Linked DNA regions of Homo sapiens. The protein of the gene in region 1 purifies or fractionates together with the protein of each later gene. This does not show direct contact. Each region holds a gene or a part of one and is shown in the gene's direction. Other genes may lie near its edges. The genes, in order: CHCHD4, CCDC127, TOR1AIP1 and ENSA.

What was found.
Region 2: the proteins of CHCHD4 (region 1) and CCDC127 purify together in Homo sapiens (co-immunoprecipitation; 2 studies listed by BioGRID and IntAct, with this or other methods). This does not show direct contact.
Region 3: the proteins of CHCHD4 (region 1) and TOR1AIP1 purify together in Homo sapiens (co-immunoprecipitation; 3 studies listed by BioGRID and IntAct, with this or other methods). This does not show direct contact.
Region 4: the proteins of CHCHD4 (region 1) and ENSA purify together in Homo sapiens (co-immunoprecipitation; 2 studies listed by BioGRID and IntAct, with this or other methods). This does not show direct contact.

What each region holds. Positions count from the first base shown.
Region 1 is NC_000003.12:14,110,491-14,115,306, reverse strand, and holds the end of CHCHD4 (mitochondrial intermembrane space import and assembly protein 40), read left to right. Parts: intron 1-2,112; coding exon 2,113-2,420; 3' UTR 2,421-3,230; downstream 3,231-4,816.
Region 2 is NC_000005.10:214,065-222,492, reverse strand, and holds the start of CCDC127 (coiled-coil domain-containing protein 127), read left to right. Parts: upstream 1-4,339; 5' UTR 4,340-4,400; intron 4,401-5,633; 5' UTR 5,634-5,643; coding exon 5,644-5,764; intron 5,765-8,428. Other genes in the region: SDHA (succinate dehydrogenase [ubiquinone] flavoprotein subunit, mitochondrial), read right to left, coding at 4,075-4,137.
Region 3 is NC_000001.11:179,912,251-179,920,772, forward strand, and holds the end of TOR1AIP1 (torsin-1A-interacting protein 1), read left to right. Parts: intron 1-1,747; coding exon 1,748-1,804; intron 1,805-5,201; coding exon 5,202-5,989; 3' UTR 5,990-7,826; downstream 7,827-8,522. UniProt on the Homo sapiens protein: Required for nuclear membrane integrity. Induces TOR1A and TOR1B ATPase activity and is required for their location on the nuclear membrane. Binds to A- and B-type lamins. Possible role in membrane attachment and assembly of the nuclear lamina.
Region 4 is NC_000001.11:150,626,613-150,636,113, reverse strand, and holds the start of ENSA (alpha-endosulfine), read left to right. Parts: upstream 1-6,501; 5' UTR 6,502-6,643; coding exon 6,644-6,700; intron 6,701-6,974; exon of another isoform or gene 6,975-7,008; coding exon of another isoform or gene 7,009-7,053; intron 7,054-8,521; coding exon 8,522-8,647; coding exon of another isoform or gene 8,648-8,782; exon of another isoform or gene 8,783-9,068; intron 9,069-9,501. UniProt on the Homo sapiens protein: Protein phosphatase inhibitor that specifically inhibits protein phosphatase 2A (PP2A) during mitosis.

The sequences.
Region 1 (4,816 bases):
GATCCCACCATTCTTTCCTGTCCCTGTTGTTTTTTTTTACCTGCTTCTGTCACTTGCAATGTATCTGCTTGGATAGTAGGTATACCATATGATGCATTTGGCTTTACAGCCCCTTATAGTGAATACTTTGTAAAAAGAAGCCTATAAAACGCAAAGAACTCTGGGACCCAAGTTTCAAGCTCTTAAACTGCAAAATTAGTAAGTGGACCAAGTAAGCCACCATTTTATGCCATCTACCTGCCTTCCAGCATCCAGCTCTGCAGCTGAGATGGTGCTTGGAATAGCTAAGAGTACCAAGAAAAAAGGTGGCAGAATTAATTTTCCTAGAATCAAAACATCAAGAGGGCCTTAAAGATCATCTGATCCAATGAGAAAACTGGGGGCCTGGGCGGGGGCGGAGACTGACTCAGCCAGAGACTGGAACTTCAGGCCTTAGACTGCATGTTTGACAACACACTGCATCTGAGCTTTATGTAACATGCCAAAGGTACCCTCTGTGTGGATTTATATTGTGTCCCTGAAATGCAAATTGGCACCATGTGCTTTGTGAGGAGGTATCTCATTCCAGCTTACCTGCCCCTAAGAAACAATGAAACAAGGACTCCTGGAGACCTAGGTTATACATTTTTTGTTATGATTTTTTTTAATCAACCACCTGGTCAATTTGTACTGGGTTGTAATTTTTAAATGTCAGTATTACCTCTTTTGGAAACTGGTTGTGCAGGTTTGTGAGCAGATTTGAAGCTCCAGGGGGCAGCATTTGCAAATGTTTCTCCAGCACTGAGGTCCATTTCAAGAAGTGGTGAGATGTAGGGGAAGGGGCATGGACTCTGGGAATCCTGTCAGCCCAGTCTGCAGTCCTCACTTGGACCATGAACCCCAGAGACTGCATGAGTAAACTGGGGTTAGTAGCACCCACTGCAGAAGGTTGTCAGAAGGCTTATGTGAGTTACCAAACGTAGCTTAATGCAGGAGAACTTGATCTGCAACTGCTGATGGTCCTGGGGGTCTGCGCCTGCTAAGGGGGCAGCACTAGTTGGCATCGTCCTTGCTGTCCCCATTTTACAAGTAAGGAACAGGAATAGCTACAGCAGATCCATTGATCAGTGGAGCTTCCCAAGCTGGAATTGAAGGCAGGCGGGGTTTCGCCTAGGACTTTGGACGTTAGTGCAGAGTGCCAGGCTTGGGTACTGCCCTGGAGTGAAGAATCATGTGTAATTTCACAGGACCTTTTAGAGGCTCTCTTAGAAAGTACTTTCAGTCTCTTAATAAGAATCATGTAAGAAACTTCTGTATGAATCATGTCTTCACAAAGCTGAAAATGAAGCCATCGTTTTGAGAGCATTTTGGAAAACCAAGAAATACTATTTAGATGTGAATAAAGTTCAATGATAAGAAAAGGTATAAAAGTCAAAAGTAAGAAGCCTATTAATATAGTGAAAATGAAAACCCATCTATAACCTTGCTTCCTGCCCAACACATATGTGCAGTTTAACAGGTTTGGTTGATTTTTACAAGAATGCACTCGCACTAATGGTATGCCACCAGCTTCTCATTGTGCAGCATGTCTTGGACATCTTTCTTCGTCAGTACATAAGGAGCAACCTCCTCCTTTTCACCAGTCCCCAGGCTATGCTGAGCTTCTGAGAGCAGCTGCAGGGCAAGAGGGGCTCAGGGGGGCAGGGAGCATGGGGGTGGGGTGGTCCTGATCATCCATATGGGGAGGGGGATTGGAAAGAGGAGATCAATACCTCAGTTCCTTAAAGTGTTTGGGCTTTCAAAAAGCTCCTCACTAACCATCCAAGTGATCTCCTCTTCTTTGGGCTAAATGGGTCCCGGTATTTAATTCTTGGAGCACAGCCTCAGAGCACTGAGAGGTGGCTTAGAATAAATTAGTGTCACACGTGGAGAAATATGTCATTGGTGGCTTCTCTCCCAGGTGGGCCAAGGAATGCTGGATATGTGCTAGGCTTTAAACCTAATCCAAATCGAGGTGTGGGTCCATAGGCAACAATAGTTCCTGTTCTGCACCCCCTCAGTAGCCTGTGAGGACTGGACTAGTTTTGTATTTTCTGAAACTTTAGAGAACATCTCTCTATCTTCCTGTTCTAGGATTGATACTGCCAAATGGAAACATTAACTGGAACTGCCCATGCCTTGGGGGAATGGCCAGCGGTCCCTGTGGAGAACAGTTTAAGTCAGCCTTTTCCTGCTTCCACTATAGCACGGAGGAGATCAAGGGGTCAGACTGTGTAGACCAGTTCCGGGCCATGCAGGAATGCATGCAGAAATACCCAGACCTCTATCCCCAAGAGGATGAGGATGAGGAAGAGGAAAGAGAGAAGAAGCCAGCAGAACAAGCAGAAGAAACAGCTCCCATTGAGGCCACTGCAACCAAAGAAGAGGAGGGATCAAGTTAATGAAGGCCACAAGGCACTGGGCACCAGTCCTTTTGGAGTGGACCTTTTGCAAAAGGCCTTGTCATCACCTTCCAAGAAAGTTTCCTTCTGTTGTCCTGTGCATTATAATATACAAAATAACTTATTTTGATGATCAGAGGTCTTGAGGTCTTGACATCTTGACATATACACTGAAAAAAATGGGGGTTGTATGTATGTGTGTCCTACCCAAACCTGTGGCCGCCACTTTTGAATTCTCAGATTGCCCTGAATTTTGCCACTTTTAAATAATGTGCTGAATAAGCTCAGCAACTAAAAACCATTACCCAAGAACGTTTCTTGTGAGTGAGCTGATTTATTCTGATTCATTATATTCCTTTTGGTAGATTTTATACCCCTTGGGGAAATAATACAACAAAAACATCTCTTAAAAATGCTGGGATGGGGCCATATCTACTAGCAGAGGCCAGATGGTCAGATATGATTTCTGCAAACCCATCTTGACCTTGAGTATGTGAAGGGGTACTGTACTTTATTCCTGATACATTTTGGTTTCCATGTAGGTGTTGAGCTCCTGGTTTTCTGTGTTTGGATGATGAAGATTTGGACCCTTCCATTCATAATCCCTTTCTAAGTGAAGGGAGAGGCTGGCTTGGCTGTTCCTTGTTATTCCGAAAGCCCTGGTTTGGGGCCCATGTTCACACTGGCTCTCAGTCTAGTCAGGTGCAATGTTCTTGAGAGGTGGGGACCTAATTATTACCAGAGTAGCAGCAAGAGAGGAAACGTTGTGAATTAAGTATTCAATTAAAAGGAAACATGATTTCTACCTGATTTTGAATGTGTCCTTTGTTTTCACTAGTTAAAAATGTTTTCTATATAAAAAAGTATAAATTATGAACAATTCAATTGAAATTCCTCTTGAAAGATATTGGTAAACCAATTTGAGTCCGTTAAAATTTTCTGTGTTGAGTTCAAAGGAAGCTTACTTATTTTATATGTGAGCAGATGCCTTCACACAGACATTACAGTTAGTCTATGAGGTGGGGAAGGCTCTTCCTGTTTGAAAATAGATTAACTTGCCTAAGGTAACTGCTAGACAGTTTTCAGGCTGTGGCATAGTAATGCCTCATTTGTCTCAAATGTGTTAAGTTATTTATGTAAAAAATTGCCTTAAAACTTAATAGCTTGAAACGAGGAATCTGGGCATGGCTTACCTGGGTTCTCTGGCTCAGTGTCTCATGAGGCTATGATACTTGTAGTCATCTCAAGGTGGGACAGGCCTTTCAAGATCGCTCGAAGTGGTTTCTGGGAGGGTTCAGTGGGTTGAATCTTGTGGGCTGTGGATTGAGGGCCTCAGTGCCTTACTGGCTGTTGGCCAGACACCTCCTTCAGTTCCTTGCCACATGGCCTTTGCCTTAAAGGGTCAGCTCACAACATGGGAGGTGGCTTCCATCAGAGCAAGCGAGAGAGCAAGATGGATGCCAGAGCCTTTTCATCACCTAATCTCAAAACGGACATTCCATAACTTTACCATAGTCTATTTGTTTGTTAGAAGTGAGACACAGCCCACACTCAAGGAGAGGGACACAAGAATACGAGTAACAGGAAGCTGCCTGCCACACTGGAGAATGAGGCGCCACCATGTTAAAGCTTGAAGGCATGGTTAAAATGCAAGGATTTGTGGTTGGGAGGTGTATGGAGGTAGAGAACTGCTTTCTATATCCAGAGCTTTTTTAAACCTTGCTTGATTAGGAGCTAAGAACCTGGAGCTGGCCAAGCATGGAAGGCATGACAGACCCTAACGACTTCTTTTAACAGAGTTTTGCACATTTAAAAACGATATTTCTTTTGTTAAAATTTTGGTCACAATCAAGGTGTTACTGTTTTGTGACCATGTCATGTACCCCATTTATTTGATGCATTCATGGAATCTACAGTTCCAAGCCCTAGGGACATAGAGTGATTCATTCATGGTACTGCCCATGAAGCTACAATCTAGCCAGGAAGTCAACATTTACTAGAAAGCAGAAAGGAATGGATGAGTGTTACATAATGGTGCTGGATTTTCAGGGCTGGGTTCTTCCAGCCATGGTAACTTACAGCAGAGATTCTCGAACTGTCTGCCCAACTCGACTTGGGTTAGGCAAAAGGTTCCATCCTTTTCCACTTATCACTGGAAAAACAAATTGGTGATAAGGAATTGGCACCGTATAAGCAATTGGAAGTGGGTGGAGATTATGCTTTACTACAAGGGGTTTGGATAATTCATATTTAAGTTGCTGTGTATCTTTAAATGTAAGAACACCAATAGATCAAAGAGTTAATGATTCAGATAAATGCAAGTTGATGATTTTTAAAGAACAGCAATAATTGAAACAAAGGGCTGCTCAAAATAACACTGATTTGGAAATGCAATT
Region 2 (8,428 bases), on another chromosome or scaffold:
ACCTGTAATCCCAGCTACTTGGGAGGCTGAGGCAGGAGAATCGCTTGAACCCAGAAGGCAGAGGCTGCAGTGAGCCTAGACTGTGCCACTGCACTCCGGCCTCGGCAACAGAGAGAGACAACGTCTCCAAAAAAAAAAAAAAGAAAAGAAAAAAAAGCTTTAGGAAATAAATGCAATCAGAAGAGGGGATGTGAGGAATGTCTTCAAGTATTTAGAAATACTTGCAATTCAGAAATTACTTATTATGTGGGATAAAAAATTATTCTTCATTTCTCCAATTTCTAGTCTCTGTTTTTATTGGTATAAGCTAATTCAGCTTTTTTCTTTTTTCAGAAAATGAATGAGAAAGAACAAATATTCTTCTACCTTAGTAAAATTTTTGCATGGTAAAATCATATTTTAAGAAAGAAGTCTTTGAAATAATTTTAATACAAATGTTCTTGAAAATGTTGTAAAGTGCCCTATTAACATAGTAATAGCACCAGTAAGAACAGTATATTATACCAAATGTAAGTAGAAACAGTGAGATCACTCAATGTTTATTCGTTCTTTCTAGGATGTTGATGTGGAAGACCCACTGCCCACCCCCCACCACACACACACAGAGCTGGCTTAAAAGGGGCAGCTACTATAACACAATCTTGAACAAATTATCACGCCATCCCCCTGGCGAAAAGGACACTAACCCTCTCAATCTAAATCTAATCTGGGGCAGATTTTTGAATTTGGAAAGCCCAACTTTAAGCCAATTTCAGTCTTTAGATAAAACTCAAAACTAGTTTTGACACAAAACTAGTCTTTTGTGCCAATTGTTAATTTTTTTAGGAGAAACTATCAAACATTTCCTCAAGAAAAAAAATGGGGAACATATAACTAAAAGGAATACTTAGACCTTGCTTAACAATACAGAATTTCAGATGACTGAATTAGGAGGTGGAGGGGAAAAGTAAGAAGTGCAGAGACATTCATATCCGAAATCTAGCAAAGTAAGGGGTCCTCATCTAATACAACGCACCTATAAATCACGAGCAAGAAACTAATCTGCATGTACAACCTACACAATCACAAAAGCAGCCAACGAAGAACCTAAAAACGCACGACTGTATCAGGAAGAAGCGGAAGCAGGGTAGTTTAAGTGAACTAAATCCCCTCTCTAGGCAAGAAGTCTAAAACTGATAAAAATGCACCTGCATATCCGCTAAAGAAACAGAGGTATTACAAATGCCAGGAGTCAGTATCAGAAACAGGAATTGCTTTCATGGAAAATGAACTGGGTGAGGGAGGGTATACTCATTGATTCTTTTACAACTGCGTGTAATTATTCTCACTAGAATTTTAGTGTTTATTATTTTAAAAACAGGGATACTTAAAATACAGTTCGGCCGGGCGTGGTGGCTCACACCTGTAATCCCAGCCCTTTGGGAGACCGAGGCGGGCGGATCACGAGGTCAGGAGATGGAGACCATTCTGGCTAACATGGTGAAACCCCGTCTCTACTAAAAACACAAAAAAATTAGCCGGGCATGATGGCAGGTGCCTGTAGTCCCAGCTACTCAGGAGGCTGAGGCAGGAGAATGGCGTGAACTCGGGAGGCAGAGCTTGCAGTGAGCCGAGATTGCGCCACTGCACTCCAGCCTGGGTGACAGAGTGAGACTCTGTCTCAAAAAAAAAAAAAAATTCAGTTCACACATGGTTACTGTGCATAGGCTGTGAGCCCTGGTTCTCAAGAGCATCACCAAAGGTTTCAAACATTACCCACAGAATCCTCACTAACCCCACGGAAAGACGGAGCTCAGAGAGGATTCAAGTCGGCCGGCCTGGCTCTGGATCCTGGACTTGCCCCCCTATCTAAAGACCCTTGGGAAAAATCTCTGAGACTCCCAACTAATATTAATATCCAGGTTTCATATCAAAAAACAAGTCACAATTTTTCAAATAAATCAGGAAAAACATCATGAGGAATGCAGAATGGAATGCCATTGTTGTTACAATTATCCCAAGAAGCAAAGCAAAGGTTTACTACTATAATGGCCTAAATAATGTATTTCTAGAACACCATTAAACATATTCAGAACAATCCATTCAAAGAAAAGAAATCAATTTGTCCTAGAACAATATATTGGATGTTCATGTTAAGGGATTTGAAAAACTTCACCTGAAGTAAGCAGTTAACCAGTAACTATTGAAGTTTCTTGGTTTTCTTTTTCCTCTGATTAAACTGCTTTCGAACAGTTTGCAAGCTGTGTCAGTGCACTGGGCCATAAAAAGAAACCAAAAGCAAAATAAGTCTGATAAGTTCGTCACTTGAAAGCAGTTGTAAATACAGAATGATCAAAACACCACAGAACTGGCCAAAATGAGGTTAAAAAATTCTCTCTGGACTTTACTGAAATTATCCTCAGCATCTATTTTCCAAACACATTTCTCAGTTGGCTATCACGAATTTCTTTCTTTTTTCTGCTAATTTTTTGATTATGCTGTTCCTTCGTAAACTCCAATTCTTCAGGAAAAAAAGCCTATCTGAAATGCCGATAAATATGCTGCTTGCAGGCAGAATTTCTGTAGGAAAAGCTAACTTCATCAAGATAAAAAGACTTTTACAAAACCCAAGACTAAATTTTGGTTCAATTTTGCTATCTTGCCATCCCGTCTGAGGTGCCTCCGCCGCTGGCAGGGTCTTAGTCTGCAGAAGGAACACCGGGCACCATCTGGGTTGAGGACAAAGGCACTAGCTCTAGCTTTTCTCCAATCACAAGCTACCATTTCCCCTAAAAAGCCCCACTGACCATGGGCTTTCCTTCCTGCTTGTGGACGCCCTCCTAGCAGCTCTTAAAAGCCCAAGATGCGGCAGGGGTCTCTGCTCAGTCAGTACCAACCACAGCAACACACTAGAACGGTTTACACGCTTTCTGATGTTGGCAGGATGGCTGTATGACTAATCCTCACATTTAACTCAACGAGATTTTTAATAAGTATTTCAAAAAGGAGAAAATTGCACAATTACAGGCATAATTCAAATCAATATTGCTGAATGCCTTGGTTCCTATTGAGATTTTTATTCTGCAATTTAAAATTACTTTGTAATTAAGGAGGTGGGTGGGTAAGTTCATTTAAAAGAACCAAACAACTAAACCTATCCAATTTAGCTTGATTAAATAAAACCCTAGAAGGCCGATTCTTAAGATGCAATCGTAGAGGGCACATTCAGACACTCAGAGAGCAAGGGCTCAGGGAAGTATAACCCTGACCACCATCCTGGACTAAGCCGAGCCCGGCCCTAGAGGCACTCAGCGCACAGGCAAGCACAGGTCCCGGCGTCCTCGCCCGGTCAGTGCGCTGAGCTCTCCGCCTGAGTTTTAAAAACTGGCACAGCTGCTTTTAAACACTGGCACATTTTTGGTGGCATAAGGACCACCAAACACGACCCAAAGTAGAAGCCCTTAACTTACAAGGTCTCGAAGTGGACATGGACAGATTTGCGCTTTCTGGAAAGGCGAACTGCAAGCCTAAGCTCGGGCGCGCCACGCTTCCCACCGGACGCCCACCGGGCCGAGCCCGGCCACTCCTCGCACCCACCCGGGCGGTCTCACCCGCCCCGCCGGCCCCACCCACGGGCTGCGGGCTGCTCCTCAGGACAACCCGCACAGAGGGCGGCAGAGGCCCAGCCCAGCCAGGGCGGCCACCGGCCGCTATCCGCCCGGGTGACCTTGGGCAGACACGACTCCTCCCCGAGTCCACCTGCCAGGCACTGAGGCGAGGGGCTACCTCAGCCCGCGGGGTCCCAGGACCCCAGGCCCGGACCAAGGCGGCGGAGGGGACGCCCAGCAAGCCCGCGGGGTTGTGACCTTCACCCGGACGCGGACTATCTACTAAGGACCGAGCTCCCCGGGTCCCCGAGTCCGCCCCGCGGCTTCCCCTCGCACCGGCCCAGGGCTCTCTCAGCCCCTTCCCGATCCCGGGACAGAGGGCGCAGGGACCCGGCGCCCGCTCCGCTCGGACCCGCTGGGGACCGTCCCGCTCCTACCGCCGCCTCGGCCCCCGCCTGCCCCGCCCCGGTCCGCGGCACGGACTCACCGCCTTGGCCAGCGCCAGGCGCCGAGCGCTCAGCAGCCGCGACAGGCCCCGGACCCCCGACATGTCTGCTGTTGCCGCCGCGCAGTCCCGCCAGTCCCTGCGCAGACTGCGCCTGCGCACCACACCGGGGTCGAGCTGGCGGGGGAGGGGGGATACCGCGCCTGCGCACCACGCCGGAGTCGAGCGGGGCTGCAGTGGGGGACATCGCGCCTGCGCACCATGCCACGCCCGGAGCGGGTACTGAGTGGGGGCGCCGCGCCTGCGCAAAGCGGACCCGCGGACGGTGGCGTTAAGGGAACGCTGAGGTCCCGCGCTCCCCGACCGAGGTAGAGCGGGCCCTGTTCCGGGGAGGTGGTGGGCACCAACATTTTTAAAGCCCCGTGGGTGGTTCTCCGGGATCGCCCAGACCGAAGGGCCTGAACGCCCAGACCGCAGGGAATGGGGTCGGAGGGGGGCGCTCGTCCGCGGAGGTGGGCGGGAGCGGCCCGGGGCCTCCGACCTCTTGTTTATTATACATCCCTTGATTAACTAAACTATTTTGTAATTGTGTGTGTTTGTGGAGGTCACATGTAAACAAACTTAAAGTGACTCTACTTTGTGAAAATGTGAAACTTCGTGTAGGTACTCAGTAAATCAGTAAATTCTTACTAACGTTAGCCCCCAGCCTAGCTATGGAGGGTGCATGCTGAGCCCGAAGCAGAGAACTCTGTAATCTCTGCATTCATCACCACCACGAGGAGGCCTCAGAAGCTTCTAGCACTGTTTGCACCTTCCCCACATCACCCCTCCCTGCCTTCCTCACAGTCTTCCTTCTGATCAGAAGACCCTTTCCTTCTTTCTCTGCCTGTCAAAATGCTGCTCACTCTTCAAACCCTAGCTCATATGAAAGTGTCCGGTGTGAGCCCACTTTTATCGAGTTGATTCTGTATCTTTGATACAACTGTATGAGGGTTCTCCAGAGACACAACAAATAGAAGGGAGACGTGAGGAATTGGTTTAAAGGTTCAATTGCTAATCTCATCCAAAAACACCCTTACAGACACGCCCAGAAATAATGCTTAACCATGTATCTGAGCACCTCATGATGCCGTCAAGTTGACAAACAAAATTAACCATCGCAGCAGCCATACATTTAAACATATTTGTACCAGAGAACTTACCTGATTCTACCTGCACTTCAGATGCTTAAGACATGTCTGTTTTCTCCACTTTCCCCAACCAGATTGTGAGTCGCTTTCATCTTAAGTTCTTGTTTTTTTTTTCCTTTTTCTTTTTCTTTTTTTTTGGGGGGGACGGAGTCTCGTTCTGTCACCAGGCTGGAGTGCAGTGGCGCGACCTCGACTCACTGCAACCTCCACCTCCCAGGTTCAAGCGATTCTCCTGCCTCAGCCTCCCGAGTAGCTGGGACTACAGGTGCCCGCCACCATGCCCGGCTCTGGTCTAGTTTTTTTCTTCTTTGAATCCCGTAGGGCCTCAGTGCTGTGCAGCAAGCACATAGTTAAAACTGAAGAAAAATTTCTTGAATAAAAGTAGTTAACGTTTTTATTCTTTACTTCAAGGTATATCTCCATGAATAACCTAAATGATCCCCCAAATTGGAATATCCGGCCTAATTCCAGGGCGGATGGTGGTGATGGAAGCAGGTGGAATTATGCCCTGTTGGTTCCAATGCTGGGATTGGCTGCTTTTCGTAAGTCATGGTTTTCTTAAAATTCGTGTTTTCCAGGCTGAGAGTGTGGAGCCCCGGTGAGGGAGGCAGCATGGTGTGGGAGCCTGAAGGCCGTGACTTTGGGACCTGCCAGGGACAGCCGAGTTTTATCCCCTGCAGTGAACCGTGGGCAAATCACTTAAGCTCTGAGCCTCAGTCTTCCTGTTCACAGGAGATGGATAATCATACTTAACCTCAGCACACTGCAAGGATTAAGTCAGCCAAGGCGTTTAGAAGCATTTTGTGTGGGGTGGGTTTTAATAACTTAGTTCCCTCTGAAGGCTTTGCTGCTCTCAAGTCGGGGAGGAGGTTCCTTATTTCAGGTGCCCTCATAAGGACTGCTGGGGAACAAAACGGGTGTAAAGGAAACCAGTGGGCTGGGCGTGGTGGCTCATACCTGTAACCCCAGCACTCTGCGAGGCCCAGGTGGGCAGATCGAGTGACCAGCCTGAGCAACACAGCAAAACCCCGTCTCTACAAAAAAATACAAAAATTAGCAAGTCGTGACGGTGCACACCTGTAGTCCCAGCTACTCAGGAGGCTGAGGTGGGAAGATCAGTGGAGCCTGGGAGGTCGAGGCTGCAGTGAGTGGAGATGGCACCACTTGCCCTCCAGCCCGAGCAACAGGGTTAAAAAAAAAAAAAAAGAAAACCAGTTTTGGAAAACCAGTGATGTTTAATGTTTAGGAAATCAGTCTTTGGGAGACTTCATCCATGAAATCTCTGCTTGGCCTGGCCAGAAAAATTCTCTCTAGTTTAGATTGACTTGGCACCACTTTGGGGACCTGCCGGTCATATGCAGACTTACATCCCCACCACACAATCAATTCACTGATGCAGAGGAGTGAGTTTTGTGTTTCTTCACATTCCATGGTTCTGGGCTGGCACTTAGGAACATGAGAAACTGAATAATTGAATGGAAGAAAGGCAAAACTGCCCTCTAGTTGTAGCGATACATTTTGTGTAGTGGCTTTTTATCTGCTTCCATGTCTCAGGTCAGAAGTTTTGCTGTAGAGGAAGAGGAGGCTGGTAAGAGCAGGTGGTTTTTATGATTCAGTGATCTGCGCAGTGCTTGCTTCTTGGTGAAAGACAGGGCAGGTCCACATCCAATCCTAAGGGGCTGCCATGTAAAAAGCTCATCCGCCTGCAGGCTTGGGAAAAAAAACCCTTAACACTTGGAGAGGCTACTGTTGCCTGTGGCTAGGGTGAGTGGATTGGAAGGCTTAAAATTACTCTGACTAATGTAATAATTAATTGGCTTTGAGGCTGGGAGAGGCCCTGAAGTGACTCATTTTCCATTTGTTTTTCAGACTCATCTCCAGCTTTTATAGCCTTTCATGATAACTTTCACTTTTGAAATTCTTACCTTCCCTTCTTGGACTTTTGAAATGATGCTTTCTGTCCCTGAAAAGGGTTGAAGAATATTTTTTTCTTCCTGGTTTTTTGCTGAGGTAGTGTGGTCAGAGAGAACTGTTAAGTTGGTGTTCTTGTAAGGATTCTCCAAAGGTGTGTTACGATGTGTTTGAGGTTCTGTTGCACATAGGAGCGTTAACCAGCCCCTAGTGTAGTCTAGAAGAAGAGGCAGACATATGAATACTTGATAAGCGCTATTGGTTGATTTATTGATGAGAGGCTAGTTTTGTCCTGATCACTCGCTTCATTTACTAGAATTTTTTTTTTTTTTCGAGACGGAGTCTTGCCCTGTCGCCAGGCTGGAGTGCAGTGGCGCGATCTCGGCTTGCTGCAACCTCTGACTCCCTGGTTCTAGTGATTCTCCTGCCTCAGCCTCCCGAGTAGCTGGGATTACAGGCGCCCCTCACCACGTCCAGCTAATTTTTGTATTTTTAGTAGAGACGGGGTTTCACCACATTGGCCAGGATGGTCTCGATCTCCTGACCTCATGATCTGCCCGCCTCGGCCTCCCAAAGTGCTGGGGTTACAGGTGTGAGCCACCGTGCCCAGCCCATTTACTAGATTTTTACTTAACATAACATAGAAATGTGTGTAATTGTGCTTGCCCGAAAGAGCAGTCCCTGGAGAAATTCTTACCCTGAGTAGCTCCCAGGGGAGAATATTCAGTATTTCAGCACTCCAGAGGGCTTCTCTCTCTTCACACCTCCTCTGTCATTCTGCTTCCCCCCTTTTCTCTCAGTCTTCTTGATTGCCCTTTCCCCATCTCTCTCTCCGTGCTTTTCCCATCTCTCCGTGCTTTCTCCCCTCTAGTGTTCCTGTACCTCCTGTTTCCTCCCCTGACCCAGAAAACATAGTTTTAGAGCTGAAAGGGACTGGTTGAGTTCACTGGGCCCAACTCAGTTTCTTTTAATTAAATATTTTATTTTGGGGTCATGTAAATCACATGCAGTTGTCATCAGTAATGCAGAGAGCCCGTGTACCCTCTACCCAGCTTTCCCCAGTGGAAGCATCTGCAAAACGATAGTGCAGTGTCACAGCCAAGACATCTGCCAGGATGCGGTCAAGATACCCCAATCCCTGGGGCCTCACGTGCTGCCCTGTGTACCGCCCCTCCCTCCATAGCCCCCGGCAGCTACTGATCTGTTCTTCATCTCCAGAACTTTGTCATTTCAAGAATGTTATGTAAATGGAATCAAACAGTATATAACCTTTCGGGTTGACTTTTTTCATTCAG
Region 3 (8,522 bases), on another chromosome or scaffold:
CTCAGGTGATCCACCCACCTCGACCTCCCAAAGTGTTGGGATTACAGGCTTGAGCCACTGCGCCCAGCTGAGTTTTTTCTTTTAAAAAGATGTTTTTTAGAATTGTTGTTAGCATCTCTAGTAATGTTGATAAAAAGGATAGCAGTTATACTTTGGACAATGTCCTGCCTTGGCAGTATATACCCTGCTGTGTATGTGTTTGTGTTATATGAATTATATAAATATTATATATGGTACATAATTATTATTTAGCTGTCCTTCATCATTAACATCATAGAATTGCACTTCACAGCATTTTTGTATATATTATCTCATTTGATCTTTGCAACCATGGAGTGAAGTATTCAAAATAAACATTATCTGATGGATTTGGGTTTCATGTGGTTAGGTATTTTTATTGTTATTTTAGTTGTAACTTCGATAACCTAACTTAGAAGCTTCTAAATAATGAAATATCCTAAGCTAAACTAGTAATTGAAAAACAGTATTCCTCTTACAGTTGCTGTCATTTTGTCTTACTACATCATTATGGAGTTTTTTGTCATATGATCAAAAATAAGGCTATTTCTGAATCTTAGCAGGGCTAATATTATTCCTCCAGTTATTCCAGTGTTTCTCAAATGAAAGTTGTTGATATAACGCTAAGAAGATCCACCAGGAAGTTCATTTATATATACAAAAGTTATAAAACTCCAGGCAAGTGATAGACGGCAATACTGGTAATATAGGTCATACAAATGAGATAACTCAGCCTCTCCACCTTCTGAAGCCTGTCCTTCCATTTCCTCTCTTAGATTTTAAAACCTGCTGGTATGCTAAGAAAGATGGAAGGGAAAGGGAAGGGTTAGGATCATTTTTAATTTCTTTTCTTGTTTTTAATTTTTTTTTTTTTTTTTAGAGATGGGGTCTCACAATGTTGCCCAGGCTGGCCTTAAACTCCTGTGCTCAAGCTGTCCTGTCACCTCAGCCTCTTGATTTGTCGGAATTACAGGCATGAACCACTGTGCCCGGCTTAATTTATTTTCTAAATAGATTTAGATGAAAGTAGAAATTTGACAGAGTTGAGAGAAAATTATTTTTGAGCTCTATTGTTTAACCACAAGCCTAAAACAGAATTACTTTATTACTTGTCTATTAACAGAAATGATGAGAAGTTTTTAAATGTGATTTTAAAATACTACTAGTATTTGAAATGGTCAGAATCCCCAGAGGAAATACTGAATCAGTTTGAGGTAGAAAATAGTGAGGATTAAGATTTTTATATTAAAACACCTTATCCAGACAGCTCAGTAGTCTGTAATCCACATTTTGTCCTTATTTTCCCCCTCTTTACAGCATCTTCACCAGGCAAGAGTTCAATATATGGCAGTTTTTCAGATGGTATAATATGTTTCATTTTATTATGGTGTGCTTAGTTTCTTTGTCCTTTTTATCCCGGAAGTTTCACCAATCCCATTAGATACTTAATGGGTCAAATACTTCCAAACTTTCTCTCAAAACTAATTATTGTGTGCTTTGTACTAGACCCCACCATATGCTGTGAAAAGCTATGAAAGAAATAGGTCATGTGTTTCAAGGAGCTCTCAGTCTAATCGGCACTCAGATATTCTACTTTTTCTTCTGCTTCTGGCTGATCTCTGTCTTCTTTTTTTCCTGGTGGAATTTGTATCTTCTTTGTCTACTAGAAATAAATACTCAAATTATGAAGCATAAGTTGATAGTCTTATTTTATTACTCTCACCATTAGATGACAGCATTCTGAAATCAGAGCTTGGAAACCAGTCACCATCAACCTCCAGCCGACGTAAGTTTATGTATTCAGTTTTTATTAAATATTTCTGTAAAATTGGTATTCCATAATTGTTTAAAAATGTTTTTTGACAGCAGTATGACTCGATGCTATTTGAAGAATCACATTTTAAGCACTTGAGAGGAAAAAGTATATATTCTACTAGCAGTGAAATTCTTTATAGACAAACTTTATGAGACAACATCTGGTATTGCTCTTCACTTAACTGTCTATAAGACCAAAAATAATAGCTAAAATAAGTAAAGCTACTAATACTGTTAACTGAGAAAACCATGCTGAATTGAAAGAAAGTTAGCCAGAGCATGACTTTATGGGATTACAATGGCTTTCGGAGTCTGCAAACCTGTATTTGAACTAGATTGGACCACTTACCTCCTTTACAGCCTTGTGGCAAGTTTCTTTAGTTCTCCAAGTCTTATTGTCCTGAAAGAGTACTAAGAAAATAACTTAATGGGCTGAGCGTGGTGGCTCATGCCTGTAATCTCAGCACTTTGGGAGGCCAAGGCAGGCGGATCATGAGATCAAGAGATCGAAACCATCCTGGCCAACATGGTGAAACCCCATCTCTACTAAAAATACAAAAATTAGCTGGGCGTGGTGGCACACGCCTGTTGTCCCACCTACTCAGGAGGCTGAGGCAGGAGAATCACTTGAACCCAGGAAGCGGAGGTTGCAGTGAGCCGAGATTGTGCCACTGCACTCCAGCCTGGCAACAGAGCGAGACTCTGTCTCAAAAAAAAAAAAAAAAGAAAATAGATTAATGATGATTCTGAAATTTTTTGTTCTTGGTACCGCTTTACACTAGTAAAGTTATTAAGAACCTCAAAGAGCTTTTTGTTGAAAATATGGGTTATGTCTATCCATATGTACCAGGAAATTAAAGTTGAAACATTTTTTAAAATATGTATTAATTTATTTTAAAATAATTTAGCAAGAAGAGTAACAGATCAGATTGCTTTGCATTTTTTCTAATCTCTTTAATGCCTAGCTTTAAAAAATGGATTTGGATTATCATATATGCTTCTGTATGCAGTCTGTTACAATATATTATTTTTGTTGAAGTATCTACAAAAAATCCAGCTTTTATACAGATATGAAAAATTTTAATAGCCTCTTCAGATAATTGTGGCTATTCTTTTTTGAACTCTCCAAAACTCAACAAGTGGTAGTTTCTTAAATGTTACTTGAAATAGGATATCTAAAACCATCTTACTGAGCTTTTAGTACTCTATTACATTAAAAGTCATTGGTCTTTCTTATACTTTGAATGGAGTATCATGCACTGGTCATTTGGAAAACATTGGTTCACTGAGGAATGCAGATTTTCCAAACATTGACACATTAGGAATGTAATAAAAAATATCACATTTGTTAACATCACTGCCAATCTCAAGACTTTAAAAAAGTGTTAAAGGGTGGGGTTCGTGGCCCATGCCTGTAATCCCAACATTTTGGGAGGCCCAGGCGGATGGATCACCTGAGGTCAGGAGTTCAAGACCAGCCTGGCCAACATGGCAAAACCCTGTCTCTACTAGAAATACAAAAACATTAGCTGGGAATGGTGGCACGCACCTGTAATCCCAGCTACTTAGGAGGCTGAGGCAGGAGAATCACTTGAACCTGGGAGGCAGAGGTTGCAGTGAGCCAAGATCGCACCACTTCATGTCATCCTGGGCCACAGAGCGAGACTCCATCTCAGAAAAAAAAAAGAAAGTGTTAAAGTACAATATTGGGAGTTGTCAAGCTCATGGTGGCAGATTTAGGATTCTAAAATCCTAATTTTCACTTGAAAGCAAATATCTGCCAAATACACAAGTCTGACTGTAGTTTGTTACTTGTTCTTTCAAGTAAAAAATAGTATTCCATGAAAAATGTGCTAATTCGCCTTGTAATTCATTTGCACAAAATTCTTTTCCTTGAGACAACCATGGTACTGTATGATGCAGCAGAAGTGCTTTGTGCATACCTTCCATTTGTTCAGAAAGAATATTGACATATGTACTCAAGGATTCAGATTTAATAAGATAAATAATTAACTGCTTCATAAAGGACATTCTTAAGTAAAAGAATGTCCCTTTGTTAAATCTTGAATGCATGGCAGTGAAAAATAACAATGACTACACTCGTACAGTTTGGTGCCACTGCCCTGTAACTCATGCTAAGGCATCAGAAGTTTTTCTCACCATAGCTTTTGCGTCATCAGTGCAAATGTCAACACAAGGTGAAAGTCAAATAACATCTTAGTGTTAGAAGAATAGCTTTAACTTCATGGACCCCCCTCCCCACAAAATAGGGTCTTGAGGTACCCCACAGACCACGCCTTGAGAATTGCTGCTCTAAAAGGTCCCTACTAAAATTAATAGCCTGAAACAGTCAATAAGTAAAAGATGTAAAAGTATTATTGTTACTATCAACTGAATAAATGAAGTAGAATATGAGAAAGTACTTTATAAACCGAAAAGCACTAGATAAATATAAATTAATCCTATTATTATTGCCAATAGTAACTAGGGATGAGTCACAAACTAAATTTTACCAGTGTTAACTTGCATACCACAAAAGGCATCAGTGAAATTAATCTAAAGGGACAGCTAGCTATTATAACACGTAGAAGATGTTCATTTATATTGCATCCTTTTCTTTTTTTTTTTTTTTTTTTTTGAGATGGAATCTCTCTCTGTCACCCAGGCTGGAGTGCAGTGGCGTGATCTCGGCTCACTGCAACCTCCGCCTCCCGTGTTCAAGTGATTCTCCTGCCTCAGCCTCCCAAGTAGCTGGACTACAGGTGTGTGCCACCACACCCAGCTAGTTTTTTGTATTTTCAGTAGAGACGGGGTTTCACAGTCTCGATCTCCTGACCTCGTGATCCTCCCTCCTCGGCCTCCCAAAGTGCTGGGACTACAGGCATGAGCCACCACTTCCAGCCTGCATCCTTTTCTTTATCCCTTTATGTACTTCAGAAATATTTCACCTTGAATAATTAGCCATGTGAATGCTGAGTTACTAAATTAAAAAAATATTTTATAAATTGTATTTTAATAGTCTATTCTCCCAACTATTAGCAGTGAAAATAATAACTTCGCTTTATAAACTATTATTTTTCTGACTTGTTTATGCCATTTCATATGTTTAAAAACTTTTTTCCTCAAAGACTTATTTTTATATTGAAGAGACATATGCATATTTGTACACATAATTCAAAGCCTATGCATGTAAGATTTTCTTGAGAATGTGATAAATTATTTTATTAAGAAAATTATCAGCTTTCTTCTTTAAAGTCCTTCCTCTTTTACCTAATGTTTATAAAGACTGATATTGATTTTAAAAGTCACTTGCCCCTGAATCTAAGAAAGTGGTATTTATATCTGTCATTTCTTTTTTGTCTGAGTAGAAGTGACTGGACAACCCCAAAATGCATCTTTTGTCAAGAGGAACCGGTGGTGGCTACTTCCTCTGATAGCTGCTCTTGCCTCTGGGAGTTTTTGGTTCTTTAGTACTCCTGAGGTAGAAACCACTGCTGTTCAAGAGTTCCAGAACCAGATGAATCAACTTAAGAATAAGTACCAAGGTCAAGATGAGAAGCTGTGGAAAAGGAGCCAAACATTCCTGGAAAAACATCTTAATAGCTCCCATCCTCGGTCTCAGCCTGCTATCTTACTGCTCACTGCTGCCCGAGATGCTGAAGAAGCACTTAGGTGTCTGAGTGAACAAATTGCTGATGCCTATTCTTCTTTTCGTAGTGTCCGTGCCATCCGGATTGATGGGACAGATAAAGCTACTCAAGACAGTGATACTGTCAAACTAGAGGTAGACCAAGAACTGAGCAATGGATTTAAGAATGGCCAGAATGCAGCTGTGGTACACCGCTTTGAGTCATTTCCCGCAGGCTCTACTTTGATCTTCTACAAATATTGTGACCATGAAAACGCGGCCTTCAAAGATGTAGCCTTAGTCCTGACTGTCTTATTGGAGGAAGAGACACTTGGAACAAGTCTAGGCCTAAAGGAAGTTGAAGAAAAAGTAAGAGATTTTCTTAAAGTCAAGTTCACCAATTCTAACACACCCAACTCCTACAATCATATGGACCCAGACAAACTGAATGGCCTCTGGAGCCGTATTTCTCACTTAGTTCTGCCTGTGCAACCTGAAAATGCCCTGAAAAGGGGCATCTGCTTATAAGAAGTGAGAGAGAAGAAAAATCATGTCCCAAGTTCTGAGAATTGTTCACACTTTCTAACCAGAGACAGAATTCAGAGCTCTTTTTGAAAGAACTAGTTTCTTTTTAAAGAAGTTAAGTGCTTACATAAACATGGAACATATAAATCATTCATTCAACCTAATTATCTGTGATATGAGAGAATCATTTCAGTTTCCATTGAGAGCTCTGTTAAAGGTATCTTAGGAGTGCAGATTATATGCAGTTCCTTAGAGAATCTGTTTTGATTCTGGGCTGAGTTATTACAGTTATGGTATGACCAGTGAGAGGGATTTGTGTCCTTTCTTATGAACCTTCCTGATTTTTTAACTTAGATTTCTCACTAAGTTTCCTGAGTTATTAGTAAGATTGCTCCCTAAATGTAACCAGGGATTTTCCCATTATGTTCCCTTTTATACCATTTAGGTGTGAGTTCCTTAGCTTCTGCCTATAGGAACATAAGTAATGAAAGGTCATCTAGGTGTGTGTTTGGAATTTTTTTCTTTTGTTTTTTGGAAAATGGAAAGAACAAGGCAAGGAAGGAAAATTAATGGGGAAGCTGAAGGGAGGAAATGTTACAGTAATCCACTGAGATGTAGTTTAGTCAAACATAGGTATATGAACTGTTAATCTTGGTGGATTCCGTTGGGATTTGTTTTTTACATCTCCTTTTTCCTTCCTTGAAGAAAAATTCTTGGCTGTCCCAAGGATTCTTCATGTATATTGCAAAATTTAATATATTTGTTCACTTGAGTCTTAAGAGTAGGTCAGGCCAAGGCAGGTGGATCACCTGAGGTCAGAAGTTCAAGACCAGCCTGGCCAACATGGTGAAACCCCGTCTCTACTAAAAATACAAAAATTAGCTGGGCGTGGTGGTGCATGCCTGAAATCCCAGCTACTTGGGAGGCTGAGGCAGGAGAATTGCTTGAACCCGGGAGGCGGAGGTTGCAGTAAGCCGAGACCATGCTTATTGCCCTCCAGTCTGGGCAACAAAAATGAAACTCCGTCTCAAAAAAAAAAAAGTAGGTCAATTCGTAACAGTTTATTTTGGACACACCCTGAAGCTTTTGTTTTGAATTAAGAAATGAGTTTCAGGAATTGACAAACCATTTGTTAACCAGCTGTCCTGGGCTATTGAAGAAGATTTCATTTTCCGCGCATCCACTTGTTGCAGTCCAAGTCCTCTAGTGCAACGCCATAGCAAATATAAAGATTTACTATGCACGTGATACATTTTATGGAGTGCCTCAAGCCAAGATAGTGAATTTATATGAAGGGTGTGAAATGTATTTCTTTACTACTATAGTAGTTTAGTTATAACTTTGCATCTATAATTGAGCTTTCTCATCTGTCAAATGCTATGGTTTTCTTAAAATGTTACAATTCTAGATCTATCCACCTTGTTTTTTTATTGTCTACAAACCATTAAATGTAAATATTGTTTTTAGAGTCAGTCATTGGCTTTGTCATTTACCCTTTGAGAGTTCCACAAGTGGTAGTAGAGTGGTTTAACGTCTTTCCTCTAGTACTACCAGTATTCATAAATGTATACCCCTTACTGTAATTTGTTCCTCTTAGAAGTCAGATCATCTGATTTATAGAGGATTATGAAAACCAGAGTTTTTGAAAAGGCTTATTTTATACATACGTATTATATAGAGAAACAAATGTTTTTATTAAATGTTTCATTGACCCAAGTAATTTAAAAGTAATATGTTACCTATGTCTTTCAGGAAAAATAATTATAGCAGCTGATCTGTAAATGACTTTAAAAGCTATTTTAGTAATTTAAATAAATTTACTTTCTTGGTTTATACTCTCTATGTGTTATAAACTTAATGATTTATCATCTTTAAAAAAAGAAATCCAAGTATTTTCCTTGAACAATTGTAGCAACTCTGGCTAGGAGAAACAAAAATCAAAGAACTGGAGCCATTTGCAAGTACATTGGTTAGAAGTGGAATAGCCGTAACTTTCCATTTTATCTCGGCACTTAGGGTTTTTAAAAATACAGTTAAGTTAGATATTCCTGACTTAGCAAAAGAATCTCCACAGCAGCTTTTCTTTTTTTTTTTTTTAAGTAGACATGGGATCTCGCTATATTGCCCAGGCTGTTTTTGAACTCTTGGCCTCAAGCAGTCCTCCTGCCTAAGCCTCCTAAGTAGCTGGGATTACAGGCATAAGTCACTACACCTGGCTTCTTAACCTTTTCTTTATCACCTCCCTGAAGAACTTTTTTAGATTTTTTTCTTAGTCACCCCTTCCCCATGATATTTCAACACCAGATATATACTATGTATCTGTTTATGGACTGTAAATGTTTTTTGCTTTATACAAAATAGAATTTTTTTTTGTCCCCAATGAACCAATTTTCACCCCCATTGAGAATGCATGCTCAAGAGCATCCACGTTTTAGATAATTGCTGCCTAAAATGTTCTATTTGCTATTCATGTTACTGTGATCCTTTTAGAAGGGAAAATTTATTTTTTATTTTTTTTATTTTTTATTTTTTTTAT
Region 4 (9,501 bases), on another chromosome or scaffold:
CCTTCCTAATGCTCAGTAATTTAGCTATATCAAGGATAAATGGGCTGGGCACGGTGACTCATGCCTGTAATCTCAGAACTTTGGGAGGCCCAGATGGGTGGATCACCTGAGGTCAGGAGTTCAAGACCAACCTGGCCAACAGGGTGAAACCCCGCCTCTACTAAAAACACAAAAATTAGCCAGACATGGTGGCGCGCACCTGCAATCCCAGCTACTCAGGAGGCTGAGTGAAGGGGTGGCCTGCCCCTCCACACTTGTGGGCATTTCTTGTCAGGTGGAATGAGAGACTTAAGAAAAGAAGGAGACACAGAGACAAAGTATAGAGAAAGAAAAGTGGGCTTAGGGAAGTGGCGCTCAGCATACAGTGGACCCGCACCGGCACCAGTCTCTGAGTTCCCTCAGTATTTATTGATCATTATTGGGCGTTTCTCGGAGAGGGGGATGTGGCAGGACAATAGGGTAATAGTGGAGAGAAGGTCAGCAGGAAAACATGTGAACAAACGTCTCCGCATCATAAACAAGGTAAAGAAAAAAGTGCTGTGCTTTTGATGTGCATACACATAAACATCTCAATGCCTTAAAGAGCAGTATTGCTGCCAGCATGTCCCACATCCAGCCCTAAGGCGGTTTTCCCCATCTCAGTAGATGGAACATACAATCGGGTTTTACACCGAGACATCCCATTGCCCAGGGACGAGCAGGAGACAGATGCCTTCCTCTTATCTCAACTGCAAAGAGGCCTTCCTTCCTCTTTTACTAATCCTCCTCAGCACAGACCCTTTACGGGTGTTGGGCTGGGGGACGGTCAGGTCTTTCCCGGCCAGCATATTTCAGACTATCACATGGGGAGAAACCTTGGACAATACCTGGCTTTCCTAGGCAGAGGTCCCTGCGGCCTTCCGCAGCGTATTGTCTCTGGGTACTTGAGATTAGGGAGTGATGATGACTCTTAACAAGCATGCTGCCTTCAAGCATTTGTTTAACAAAGCACATCCTGCACAGCCCTTAATCCATTTAACCCTGAGTTGACACAGCACGTGTTTCAGGGAGCACAGGGTTGGGGGTAGGGTTACAGATTAACAGCATCTCAAGGCAGAATAATTTTTCTTAGTACAGAACAAAATGGAGTCTCTTATGTCTACTTCTTTCTACACAGACACAGTAACAGTCTGATCTCTCTTTTCCCCACATTTCCCCATTTCCTTTTCGACAAACCACCATCATCATCATGGCTTGTTCTCGATGGTCGCTGTCTCTTCGGAGCTGCTGGGTACACCTGCAGACTAACAACAGATAAAACAGGCACACAAGGATTAATACGAAATTTATAATAGTAGTACTTCCGATGGTCTTAACCCAAGTGACAGGGTTAAGATTTGCGAGGCCATCAGTCACTCCTGCGATTGCCTCAGTTTCTGGTACCAAATTTAAATGGGCTTTTGATGCTTCGAAAATTGGTTCTCTATCTTAAGAGGAGACTCAGACTTAAATAGTAAGAGAATATTAACCCCAGAGGCAATAAAAGAAATTAAATTAGTGGAACAAAAAATTCAGTCAGTGCAAATAAATAGAATAGATCCCTTAGCCCCACTCCAACTTTTGGTTTTTGCTACTGCACATTCTCCAACAGGCATCACTGTTCAAAATACTGATCTTGTGGAGTGGTCATTCCTTCCTCACAGTACAATTAAGACTTTTACATTGTACTTGGATCAAATAGCTACATTAATTGGTCAGGCAAGATTACAAATAATAAAATTGTGTGTAAATGACCCAGACAAAATAGTTGTCCCTTGAACCAAGGAACAAGTTAGACAAGCCTTTATCAATTCTGGTGCATGGCAGATTGGTCTTGCTAATTTTGTGGGAATTATTGATCATCATTACCCAAAAACAAAAATCTTCCAGTTTTTAAAATTAACTACTTGGATTCTACCTAAAATTACCAGACGTGAACCTTTAGAAAATGCTCTGACAGTGTTTACTGATGGTTCCAGCAATGGAAAAGCGGCTTACACAGGGCCAAAAGAGCAAGTAATCAAAACTCAATATCAATTGGCTCGAAGGGCAGAGTTGGTTGCAGTCATTACAGTGTTACAAGATTTTGATCAACCTATCAATATTGTATCAGATTCTGCATATGTAGTACAGGCTACAAGGGATGTAAAGACAGCTCTAATTAAATATAGCATGGATGATCAGTTAAACCAGCTATTCAATTTATTACAACAAACTGTAAGAAAAAGAAATTTCCCATTTTATATTACTCATATTCGAGCACACACTAATTTACCAGGGCCTTTGACTAAAGCAAATGAACCAGCTGACTTACTGGTATCATCTGCATTCATAAAAGCACAAAAATTTCATGCTTTGACTCATGTAAATGCAGCAGGATTAAAAAACAAATTTGATGTCACATGGAAACAGGCAAAAGATATTGTACGACATTGCACCCAGTGTCAAGTCCTACACCTGCCCACTCAAGAGGCAGGAGTTAATCCCAGGGGTCTGTGTCCTAATGCATTACGGCAAATGGATGTCACGCATGTACCTTCATTTGGAAGATTATTATATGTTCATGTAACAGTTGATACTTATTCACATTTCATATGGGCAACCTGCCAGACAGGAGAAAGTACTTCCCATGTTAAAAAACATTTATTACCTTGTTTTGCTGTAATGAGAGTTCCAGAAAAAATTAAAACTGACAATGGGGCAGGATACTGTAGTAAAGCTTTCCAAAAATTCTTAAGTCAGTGGAAAATTTCACATACAACAGGAATTCCTTATAATTCCCAAGGACAGGCCATAGTTGAAAGAACTAATAGAACACTCAAAACTCAATTAGTTAAATAAAAAGAAGGGGGAGACAGTAAGGAATGTACCACGCCTCAGATGCAACTTAATCTAGCACTTTATATTTTTTAAACATTTATAGAAATCAGACTACTACTTCTGCAGAACAACATCTTACTGGTAAAAAGAACAGCCCACATGAAGGAAAACTGATTTGGTAGAAAGATAATAAAAATAAGACATGGGAAATAGGGAAGGTGGTAACATGGGGGAGAGGTTTTGCTTGTGTTTCACCAGGAGAAAATCAGCTTCCTGTTTGGATACCCACTAGACATTTGAAGTTCTACAATGAACCCATCGGAGATGCAAAGAAAAGCACCTCCACGGAGACAGAAACACCGCAATCGTGCGCCATCGACTCACAAGATGAACAAAATGGAGTCTCTTATATCTACTTCTTTCTACACAGACACAGTAACAGTCTGATCTCTCTTTCTTTTCCCCACAGCTGAGGCAGGAGAATCACTTGAACCTGGGAGGGGGAGGTTGCAGTGAGCCGAGATATCACATCATTGCACTCCAGCCTGGGCAACAAGAATTAAACTCAGTCTCAAAAAAAAGGACAAATGTATAATTTAAATCAATCGTTCCTTTAGCAATCATAGTTTTTACACATTATTCTTAAGCAGAGCTTGGAATTAGAAATAGCTTGATCAGAAAGTATTTCCCAAAAGAATTATTCATCTTTTAGATGAATCCCAAAGTGCTGGGGTTACAGGCGTGAGCCACCACATCCAGCCTCATTCGCCTTTTCTAAAAACATGCTTGAGTCTTGCCTATTCCCCAAAAGAAAATCTGCTGCTACAGCTCTGCCCTTTCCTTGCTTTACTGTTAAATATTGCTACCACTGTTCAATATTGGTACCACCTCCTCGCTCCTTAACGTCTTGCGATTGACCTCTATCACCTCCATCTTTAATTTCTGTATCACATTTAACATTGACAACCTGCCCTCCCTTTCTTCATTTGCTTTCCATGGCTCTTCTCTCTTCTAATTCTCTCCCTACCACTCTGATCATTTGTATGTCTTTTGCCAACTTTTCCCCACGTTTCTGTCTTGGGAGTTTTTTTTTTTTTTTTTTTTTTAAGAGACGGGTTCACTCTGTTGCCTAGGCTGGAGTGCAATGGCATGATCATAGCTCACTGTAACCTCAAACTCCTGGCTTCAGGCGATCCTCTCACCTTGACCATTCAAAGTGTTGGGATTACAGGTGTAAGCCACCGCACCTGACTGGAACCTCTTTTTTTCCTACATTCTCCTTTGTGATCCCATCAACTTCCACAACTTTACTTACATTTATGTGAAAAAGTCCAAAATTTGTACATCTTCAGCGTCTACTTTTCTCCCAAACTCCCACACTTACATTTCCTAGAACCCTTAAATTTCAGATATGGAGATCTTAGAGGTCATTTATCCTAAGTCTTCATTGCCTGGATGTCTCCACCAAATGGTTCATTCGCTTTTAATAAAGTCCATGTTTTCAGGCCGGGCACGGTGGTTCACGCCCGTAATCCCAGCATTTGGGAGGCCGAGGCAGGCAGGTCACCTGAGTTCAGGAGTTTGAGACCAGCCTGGCCAACATGGCGAAACCCTGTCTCTACTAAAAATACAAAAATCAGCCGGGCATGGTGGCGCACACCTGTAGTCGGGAGGCTGAGGCAGGAGAATCACTTTAACCCGCGAGGCAGAGGTTGTAGGGAACTGAGATTGTGCTACTGCACTACAGCCTGGGTGACAGAGCGAGACTCCGTCTCAAAAAAAAAAAAAAAAAAAAAAAAAAGTCCATGTTTTCAAAACTGAATGCCTTATTTTCTCTCTGCTTTTCAGCTCCATTCCCAAATTGACTCCTCTTCTTGAATTTATTGTTTCTATAAATAATCACCTTGAGGCACACAGTCTTCTCATTCTCTATTCAGTCAGCTGCTAGTCTAGTGGATTCCATTGTCACAGACTCTCTTGGTTAGGTTCACTATTTTCTATTCTTAACTACTACGTTTCTAGGTTAAATCCTAATTATCTCCCACCTAACGTTTGCAGAGGACTCGGCTAGACTGTTCATCTCTGGTAGTTTTCTGCTTGGAATTCTGAGTCTTTTTATTCATTACCACCAAATTATCTCCATAAAGAGCACTTCTTATCTGCCACTCTTTTTTTTTTTTTTTTTTTGAGACGGACTCTCACTGTCACCCAGGCTGGAGTTCAGTGGCGAGATGCGATCTCGGTTCACTGCAACCTCCGCCTCCCAGGTAAAAGCGATTCTCCTGCCTCAGGCTCCTGAGTAGCTGGGACTACAGGTGCACGCCACCACGCCTGGCTAATTTTTGTATTTTTAGTAGAGACGGGGTTTCTCCATGTTGACCAGGATGGTTTCTATCGCCTGACATCATGATCCACCCTCATCGGCCTCCCAAGGTGCTGGGATTACATGCGTGGGCCACCGTGCCCAGCCTTGTTTTGTATTTCTAGTAGAGACAGGGTTTCACCATGTTGGCCAGGCTGGTTTCGAACTCCTGACCTCAAGTGATTCGCCCGCCTACGCCTCCCAGAGTGCTGGCATTACAGGCGTGAGTCACCGCGCCCAGCCAGGCCTGTAAGCTTTCTAAGGGCAGAGACTGCCTTACTATACACGTACCCCCCCCAACTAACACAGTACCATCCACATACAGACAGACGCCCAGGAAATGTTAAACTGTAATTCTGGATAGGTTAACTAGTATTAACCGTATTTACCAAATGTTTACCACATACTTACACTGTCCTCCTTGTTTCAAGGAGCGTAGTCCCCAAGGGATCACCCTGATGGAATATAAAAACTACACATAAGAGTGAAACTACGGAACGTAAGCCATTAGTGTTTTGCAAGACAGCTCGGGTTGAGACTCAGTCTCTCTCTTCCACAGGCCAAGTGACACATCGTAATACCATTGGTACCGTTTTATTTTATTTTTCGCGACAAAGTCTCGTCCTGTCACCCAGGCTGGAGTGCAGTGGCGCGATTTCGGCTCACTGCAACCTCCGCCTGCAGGGTTCAAGCGATTCTCCTGCCTCAGCCTCCCAAGTAATTGGGATTACAAACGCCCGCCACCACGCCCGGCTAATATTTGTATTTTTAGTAGAGACGGGGTTTCACCATGTTGGTCAGGCTGGTCTCGAACTCCTAACCTCAGGTGATCCGCCCACCTCGGCCTCCCAAAGTGCTAGGATTACAGGCGTGAGGCACCGCGCCCGGCCTGTTAGTACTACTTTAAAATCGAATCTGACCTCCAAATCATTTTCTGGAGCTCGATCATTTTCTGCTAACACCGCAAAGCTTAATCCTCTCCACCTGAGAATAAAAGGTTCCATCCTTCCGCTCTCCAGTTTGACGCCCTGCTAAGTCTCTCGGACGCGGTGGGCTGGAGTGAAGGAAGCCGGAGCCCACCAAAGCTGCAAAAGTACCACAGCCAGCAGCCCCGCCCCCGATATCCCCCACAGGCTTCCAATTGGTCCTTGTGGCTCACTCTCTTTCCAGGTTGGTGTTCCAGCTTGCCGGTCGCCTCTATAGAGCCCACCTTTAGACGGCGACTATTGGTAGATCGTTACGTCATTGCCCTATCTACCTCACTCCCACTGGCTCTCATAGGAAGGGGCGGTCGCAACGTCACGGGCAAGGGCCGCCATTTTGACTGAGCAACCCTAGTGACAGGAGCCGAAGCAGCAGCGCAGGTTGTCCCCGTTTCCCCTCCCCCTTCCCTTCTCCGGTTGCCTTCCCGGGCCCCTTACACTCCACAGTCCCGGTCCCGCCATGTCCCAGAAACAAGAAGAAGAGAACCCTGCGGAGGAGACCGGCGAGGAGAAGCAGGTGAAGTGGAAGGGGTGCGGGCGGGCGAGCTGGGGAGACCGTGATGGGGCGGGAGACGGTCTCCCACCAGTGCGGATTGGTCGCCATGGTCTCAGGCTCCGCAGGGGTTGGCCACTTTTTGCGTCACGCTGGGTGAGCTTCAACACGACATGCTGCTTTGGCGCTGGTTAGTTGGGTCGTTTGTCACTCAGTACTGTACTCTTCCTGATTGGCCAATAGGCCTACCGCTCAAACCTTGGACGCTGTGCTATAATTGGCCGAGCATGGACGTGGGGCGGGTGGTTGGAAAGACGGTGAATGGAAAGGGGATGGCTGGTGGTCTTGGGTGTGATGTGTGTTATTGGTTTGTAGAGGTAAGTGACCCAGCAACCGGGCTGGGGCCCGCAGCCTCAATCCGCAAAGATAGGGGTCGAGGTAAAGACGTTTAAAAAAAAACCAGTATTGGGGGAGGGGAGAAGTGTAGTTATTATAATGGCTAGTTTAAGGCGGCAACTTTCTCAAGAGACCTATTTTAGTAGCTAAGGATGGTCTATTGCTCACCTTCAGTGAGGACCCAGCAATATTGAAGAGGGCTAGAGTTCCAAACAGAATCATGGTAATTAAACTTGGAAAAGACGCCGACAGGGTCGTGAGAAAGACACTTCTCTCTTCCCCTAGACTTCCAAGGCAGGGACTTAGTGCACCTGCGATTCCGTGATGGAAACACTAACGCCAAATAAACCCCTTATTGGGGTTTGTATTTGACTTTTAAAATTTAGTACTGGGTTCAGGTACTCATTAAATACACTTGGTGTTATATCTATGCGTAATTTCCAAGAGAAAGGAATATAATTCCACTAAAAAGAGTCATACGTTGACTTCATATCTTTTCAAAAAGTCACTAAAGGGCAGCAGGGACCACAAAAAAAAAAAAAAGAGATTGACTACAGTAGTGAGAGTCCCTGCACCACCAGGGTAGGTATTGATTTTTTTGATGAAAACTGGTGGGTAAATACTAGTGAGCCTACTGTATCTTTGTTTTCCTGAGGTTAAAAACAGTATCATTTTCCTCTCTGTTTATCAGCTTGCTACCATAATATTTGTGGAAATGTTGAAGCAAGGCTGTGCCATTACTCAGGTGGAGATCTTTGGAGAAGGCCACATAGCTAGCCGCCTCCACAGGGAGACCTAACAGGTGGCTTAGACCTTGAATAAAGAAGGAACTGCTTTGTCGTGTAGCAATTTTAAAAAAGAAAGAAAAAAATAAGGAGGAAACATTTAGCAAACTATTTTTTGTTGTTGTAGAGACGGGGTTTCAACATATTGCCCAGGCGGGTAGTGAATTCATGAGCTCAAGTGATGCACCTGCCTCAGCCTCCCAAAGTGCTGGGATTACAGGCATGAGTCACTGCTCCCAGCCCCAAACTATTTTTTTTTTAATTTCTCATGTGACATGTAGGATAGCCTAGGGAACCCTGCTACTCATCCTCTATCACCAGAAGCCCTGCTTTTTTCTCTTTGTCTTTCTTAGCATTTGTGCTGAGTGATATGGCCCACTCTGTGATTAAAGTATTGTGTTTAGTATTACCTTTAGCCCAATACGCACAGGTCCCTGGCTGGTTCCTTGGGTGAAGTGTGAGAAGCAGCTTGTCTTTTTCTCTCACAATAGTCATCTTGAGCTTTAGGGATTTTAACAAAGGTCTAGCTTTAACAGCAGAGTAGAGATAGCGTATTTACAAGTGGGTGGATTTCCAGGAGAAGTTGATAGTATAGTTGTTATCAGATGTGAGAAGCTGTTGTTTCTCAGTCTTTAATTTTATTTGGCTCATTTGTTTTCTCCAGGACACGCAGGAGAAAGAAGGTATTCTGCCTGAGAGAGCTGAAGAGGCAAAGCTAAAGGCCAAATACCCAAGCCTAGGACAAAAGCCTGGAGGCTCCGACTTCCTCATGAAGAGACTCCAGAAAGGGGTATGGGGCATAGTCTCTTACCCTCTTTCTTTGGAGCTAAAGGAGGTTCTTCGAATGAAGTCTGTAGAGGTTCTACTGGATCCTTTTCTGGAGGTTTTGTTGTTGAACAGAAGTAGAGGCGAATTTGAAATTTGAAAAGAGCAAGTCAAATTAATGTAAATCCCTGATGTGGTATCAATTCCCTCCTGATTTCCCATGTAGGAAATTAAGGCCTAAATTGGAGCATTTGGGTGTGTGGGGAAATGAGGGAAAGATGTTAGAAACTGAAATGCAGACTGCCCCCAGGCATTTGCCTGTTTGAATGTTGGAGGTTTTAGGATTGTGCACTTTTTAAGCATTAGAGATAAATTTTGGGATGCATCATTTCAGAAGAAGATCAAACCATCTCTCCTACAGAAATAAATCCTCAACTTGAAATGAATCAGTTTCTTCATACCCTTGAAGTGAGCACCAGCCATTAATTATACTCCTGCAGCAAATGTATTTTTCTTGTTCAGAGTGGTCCTCCTTACCAAGAGAGAGTCTACTTTCATAGCCATGTAGCTCCTGATCAGATTTTTAGTTCCCAAAGGTACCTAAAGCTGACTGAGGGATTATATTATCGTTTTTTAAAAAAAAAATTTGGCCAGGCGCAGTGGCTCACGCCTGTAATCCCAGCACTTTGGGAGGCCGAGGCGGGCGGAGCACGAGGTCAGGAGATCGAGACCATAGTGAAACCCCGTCTCTATTAATAATACAAACACTTAGCCGGGTGTGGTGGCGGGCGCCTGTAGTCCCAGCTACTCGGGAGGCTGAAGCAGGAGAATGGCGTGAACCCGGGAGGCGGAGCTTGCAGTGAGCCGAGATCGTGCCAC